Regions from separate parts of the Homo sapiens genome. Here region 2 is linked to region 1. Evidence: fine-mapped expression QTL. A gene starts in region 1. The other region holds a variant in brackets. All regions are shown on one strand. Distances are between the middles of the regions. Region 1 holds the start of LZTS3 (leucine zipper tumor suppressor family member 3). Region 2 overlaps UBOX5 (U-box domain containing 5).

Region 1 (3,003 bases):
AAAAAGAATGTTGTGGCTTAAAAAAAAAGTGTAAACAAAAGTTAGGTCTGTCGTCCTGATTAAGTGGACAAATATAAGTAGTGAGGGCGGCAGGTAGGAGGCAGAAAAGCACACAAAATTTCTCATGGGGGAATATAAAAACGAATTATTTGTCACTGACTTTACTAATGTGTGAAATGTAAACTATTTTCATTTGATAAATCTAAAGGCAGCCGCGAGAAGAATTAAAAATACTTTCTGCCTTGAAAATCACGATAGAAGATAAAAGCAAATGTGGGAAAATTCAGAAAACAGGAATAAATAAAAACTATAGAATACGAAGTCGTAAGACCAAACACAACACCTATAAACAGCAGAGACGTAATGCGTTAAATCCCAGCCAGAGCAGAGGCGCTGCAGTTCTTAGGGCAGACCCTGGTGCCTCCAGGCTTTTGCTAGTGCTAAACTCTCGGCTAGGCTTGCCTCCCTACCCTATTCAAGGCTGAGGCCTCAATTCAAGGCCGACTCCCTCCTCCCGGCAGTCCTCCCGGGCCGCCCTAGGCTGAGTGAGCACTCCCCACAGTGAACGCTGCCCGCGCGGGCGAGGCCGGCGCTCCGGGTCCGGTACGAAGTCCCACCTCACTCCCTCTCACCCCGGGTTACAGCGTGTGGTCTGGGGCCACGCGTTACGCCAGGCGCGGGGCACAGGGTGAAAGCGTTCAATCCTGCTGGAGTGTAATGTGTATTTTTTCCCCGTCGCACCTTCCAGACGGTGATCCAGTGTGAGCAGCAAGTTTCAAATCGTCTCCGTTTGGTCACGAACGGAGTTTACTGCCCCTCGACGCCTCCCGCACGACAGCCCGTGGTCCTCGCGCCCGGGCGGGTCGTTGCTCGGCCGGGCGGATCCACCCGCGACGGCTCGTCCCGACCCCTCCCTAGCGGACTTGCAAGGTCTCAGGGCGTCCGCTGGGAGGCCGCGTCCCGAAGAGCTGGCGCGGGAGAGGAATGGGGCTCGGGGCTCCGAGTCGGGAGCCCCTTCCCCCAAGCAAGAGGGGCTCCTCCTCCTCTTCCTAGACGTGGGATTCAGGGAGGGCGCGGTTCCATTGGATTTGTTGCAGAGGAACGACTGGGCCTGAGCCCAAGCCCAAGGGCCTGGGGGGTAACGAGCGATGAGCAGAGGGGCTCGCGGCGGACTTGCTGCGCCCTAGAGAGGGTGAGGCTGAGGGGTCCCACGCGCGGGCGGGGCGCAGCGACGAAGGGGTTAAGGCGCCTCACCCCGCCCCAGCCCGGGCATTGGCTGCCCTGGGGGGCGTGGCCGGAGGGCGGGCTCGCGTTTGCCGCAGCCGCTGGTGGGCGGGGCTCGGGCGGGGAGCAGGAGGGGCGCGGAGCGGAGCCGGGCCCGCGCAGCGCGCCCCGCCGGGCGTGCTTCGGGCTGCGCCAGCAAGCGGGGCCGGTGGCGCCCGTGTCGGAGACCCCGCGCCGGACCCTGAGGCAGCGAGTAAGTGAGGCAGGCCCATCGTGGCATCCCTCCCGGCTCCGACCTGCCGCCGTGCCTGCTGCACTGCGCGGCATGTCTGACCTGACCCGGACTGGGTAGGGGGCGCGTCCCGCTGCTAGGGTCCCAAGGGGGAGGGGAGCGGAGAGGAGGCGGATGATGTCATGGATGCTTCGCCCGGCCTGGGGGGAGGTGGCGGCCAGAGGGGGTGCGGCTCGGATTATGTCACCTCTTCCCTCTGCGCCCCGCCCCCCGGGGCCACACGCGTTGGTGGGGAGCCTGGGGAGGTGCGGGCGGGGTTTCCCCCATCGCAGGGACTCCCAGGTCCTGTGGCCTGTGGCTGGGGTCTCTATCAGTTGGCTCTGCGGGCCGTGGGCTGCTGGTGAATGGCGACCCCCCCTCCCACCCCCAGCAGAAGCTCGTGTGTGCGCGCGTGTGTGTGCTCGGGGTGGAGGGGGCGCTCTCGGCCCCCTCAGTCCTGAAACACTGGCTTCATCAGAGCCAGTAGCTAGGTGATGGGCCCATTCCGCTGCCAGTGCTTAGGCCACCGAGGGAAGACGGATCTCCCCTCACTCATCCCAACCAAGAAGTTCTGGATATCTCTGCACCCCAAAAGCCCTGCAGTGCCCCCAGATCCCTTTCCTCCCTCAGTCCTGCTTCCTGGAAACCCCTCCTGCTCTCCCTGCCCGGATTCACTGCCTCTTTGCATTGCCCATAACTAGCATTCCCACAGGCATTTGCCCTGCATTTCCTTGGTGCAGGGCCCAGAGACCCCCAGGACTCTGCCCTCTGTGCTCCTGGGAAACCTATAGGCCAGCCCTGGGGAGGCCTCAGAGTGAAATCTCCCTGGGGTGTCCTCAGCCAAGTGCTCCAAGATGCCCCCTCTGGGGGGTGGAGATCAGGGATGCTGTCCTGAGGCCAGCCTTTGAACTGGTCTAGAAGCATGTAGGATGGGCACAGAGAGCTGGCAAGAGCTTGTGTGTGAAGTAGAGAGGGGCTCAGGTCAGGGTAGATAGAGGAGGGGCATCAGGAGAGTCCTTGGGGACCCTGCTGCAAGCTCTGCTCTGGTTCTGGGGACCAAGAGGAATACCAGGCATTTCACCCATCATACATTTACTTCTTAAAATGCCTGCAATGTAGGTGTGAGAACCCGAGGTGAAATAACCTGCATGAGGTTGCACCCCTAATCAGTCAAGCTGGGATTTACACTTGGAGCTGATGCTGCCAGAACTCTGTCTACTGCACTTGGTCTTGCTCATGGAAGGATTTGGACAGAGCAGGGGCAAGATCAGCTTTGCCCTTTAGAAGGAATCCCCTGGCAGCTGCCTGGGGGAGGGAGTGCAGGAGAAGAAAGTCCATTGAGGAGCCCCCAGCAGGGGTGCTGGATGGAGGGGCTGGCTAGAGATTTTTAGGAGATAGAATGGGCTGGGGTTGGGGCCTCTGAGACCCCAAGTGTTCCTAGCTTTGGGAGAGACACAGGTTGAGGGGTGGGTTGGAGGTACCTGTACATGTAACTGTCAGGTAGAGTC
Region 2 (2,500 bases), 64 kb after region 1:
TAGAGACAGTATCTCACTATGTTGCCCAGGCTGGTCTCGAACTCCTGGCTTCAAGTGATCCTCCTGTCTCAACCTCCCAAAATGCTGGGATTACAGGCTTGAGCCACCCCACTGACCTGCCTTTTCCTTCTCTTGTCGCCTCTCACATTTCTTGCAGTTTATCTTGTCAGAGTGAGCTGTGCCTTGCTCCAGCCTTGGCCACCTATCGCAGGGGAAAGTAAACCTTGCTGGGAGACCAGGAGGAAGGGCCCAGTCCTGCCTGCTGCCCTCAGAAGCCAGCTCTTCTCAAGCATTCGTAGAGGCACTGAGATTTGGTCAAAGATGATAGAGAAGAGGCCTCCCGGGTTCCCAGGCTCCCTCTCCCGCTTCCACTCCCCTACCTGATCAGACTGGGATGGACTCGGGAGGGATGAAGCCAGATGCTGCAGCAGCACGGTGGGAAGGCTCTGCCCCTCAGAGCAGCCTGGACCATGGAGCAGCTTTCCTAACCCTGGCCTGTTTTCCTTCCTGATTTACCAGAGCAGCCTGGGAGCATCCTGGGCCCCGAATGTGCCTCCTGCAAAAGAGTATTTTCTCCCTACTTCAAAAAGGAGCCGGTGTACCAGCTGCCCTGCGGCCACCTCCTGTGCCGACCCTGCCTGGGTGAGAAGCAACGCTCCCTGCCCATGACGTGCACAGCCTGCCAGCGGCCGGTTGCTAGCCAAGACGTGCTGCGGGTCCACTTCTGAGTGACTGACCTCCACTGGAGGAGACCCATTGCTGGGAGGAGCTGAGGGGGAACAGGAGCAGGGCCACAGCACCCCTGAGGTCTGGCCAGGCCCCAGGCACAGAGCTGCCTGCTCCCTCCCGGGGCTCTTCTTCATCACCTCACGGTATAGCACATTGCTTCTGCGCTGGTGGCAATAGGGCAACAAAGCCATAGGCCAGAGGGCGGGGGGATGTCCCTGCCTCCCTGCCACCCCCCCTGCCTGAGCCCAGGACCC[A/G]CTGGAGCCAGCCCCACCCTAGGCAGGAAGACCCCTGCTGAGGGCCCCCCCGTGCAGTCCGCATACCCCCCTGTCCAGCAGGGCACTGTGGGTGGCTCACCCTAGATTGTGGCCCAGATCTCAGGAGTCTCTGCCTTCAGGGTCATCCAAAAGTGGACCTTGGGAGCAGTGGGGGTGTCTGTGGAGTGCATGACTCAGCCCCCCGACTCGCAGCCTTAATAAAGCGATGGTTGACGTCTGCTGTGGGTTTCCTCCTGGTGGAGTGCCTGTCTGTGTCACACACTCCTGTCGCCCACCTGCACCCACACAAGTGGAGCTCACAGGGTAGCTGTGTGCAGTCACTGCAGCTTGCCAGGCTGTCATTCCTGTCGATGACCTGAAAGGACACAAACTGGAATTTTCAGGTCTGTCCCCTGCATGGGGACTCAGAACCCAGGTTTGCAGGTGGGCATACGTGGTGGGAGGGTGGAGGGCTCCCTCTGGCCAGTGCCAGCTGTGCTCAGCTGGCTTCAGAAACTGCTCCCTGAGGGGGAGCGCAGCGTTTCCTCATGCAGTTGGTTTCAGGAAAAATACTTGTTTATAGGCTGCATCCTTTTTTCAGCCCAACATTTAGCTTTATGGAGTGCCAAAGGGAAAATATATCCATATCCCTACAACTTGGTACTCTATCAGATTCCAGCCACTAGAAGAACCTCAGTGAGAAAACACACCCGCCTTTCCCTGTTCCCTTCTAAGCACGTTTGGGAAGGAACAGCCTAAAGATGCTTTGTAAAGCTGTATTTTACCCTTGAGCTTAGCCGCGGGTCCCTGTGAACCGGCACATTCCTTTCCTTTAGGCCGTCCAGAGCTCTAGTCCACACCCAATACTTTAGAGATCTGGGTTTGGGGTTAGTTGCTTTTTTTTTTTTTTTTTTAATTGAGACAGGGTTGGTCTCTGTTGCCCAAGCTTGAGGGCAGTGGTGCAATCATAACTCATTGCAGCCTCGAACTCCTGGGCTTAAGGGATCCTTCTACCTCAGCCTCCCAGGTAGCAGGAACTATAGGCATGTGCCACCATGCCCAGCTAATTTTTTTATTTTTTGTAGAGACAAGGTCTTGCTATGTTGTCCAGACTGGTCTCAAACTCCTGGGCTCAAGCGATCCTCCCAAAGTGCTTGGATTGCAGGCATGAGCCACTTCGCCTAGCCAAGCCTGCATTTTTTTGAGTTCCTACATCATTTGTCCACAAAGATGGCTTCAGAGAGGTGGTCACATGCTTTGCTCTGCTTCCTCTTGGCACTGACCTTGATGCAGCCTTCACATGAGATTTGAGGGTCCGCATGGATGGCCTGTGCCGCCCTCGCTGGCGAGGCTCCTGTGTGCCCCTGGCTTTCTGGGTCTGTGCCTCTCCAGAATCTTGTCTTACCCTCCGGTGTGCTTGTGTTCTTAGAAAAGCCCCAGCATGGCCGGGCATGGTGGCTCATGCCTATTATCCCAGCACTTTGGGAGGCCAAGGTGGGTGGATCACTTGAGGTCAA

What was found. PIP is the estimated chance that this variant, and not a neighbour inherited with it, causes the effect.
Region 2: its variant is the best candidate, but not a certain one, in a credible set for the expression of LZTS3 in tibial artery (GTEx, PIP 0.77).

What each region holds. Positions count from the first base shown.
Region 1 is chr20:3,171,929-3,174,931 of GRCh38, reverse strand. It overlaps LZTS3 (leucine zipper tumor suppressor family member 3), which reads left to right and starts at 1,383. Exons shown (of 5, transcript NM_001365618.1): 1 at 1,383-1,477. It overlaps LOC107985414 (a long non-coding RNA gene), which reads right to left and starts at 1,242. Exons shown (of 2, transcript XR_001754477.2): 1 at 742-1,242. RefSeq lists a silencer at 1,160-1,499.
Region 2 is chr20:3,108,334-3,110,833 of GRCh38, reverse strand. UBOX5 (U-box domain containing 5) reads left to right here. Exons shown (of 5, transcript NM_014948.4): 5 at 520-2,500. The coding sequence ends at 728. UBOX5-AS1 (UBOX5 antisense RNA 1) reads right to left here. Exons shown (of 7, transcript NR_038395.1): 2 at 1,084-1,359; 3 at 381-556; 4 at 117-202. Among named protein-coding and RNA genes, the nearest start is that of UBOX5-AS1, 2.7 kb to the right of the region's middle. The variant A/G (reference allele first, on the strand shown) is at 984.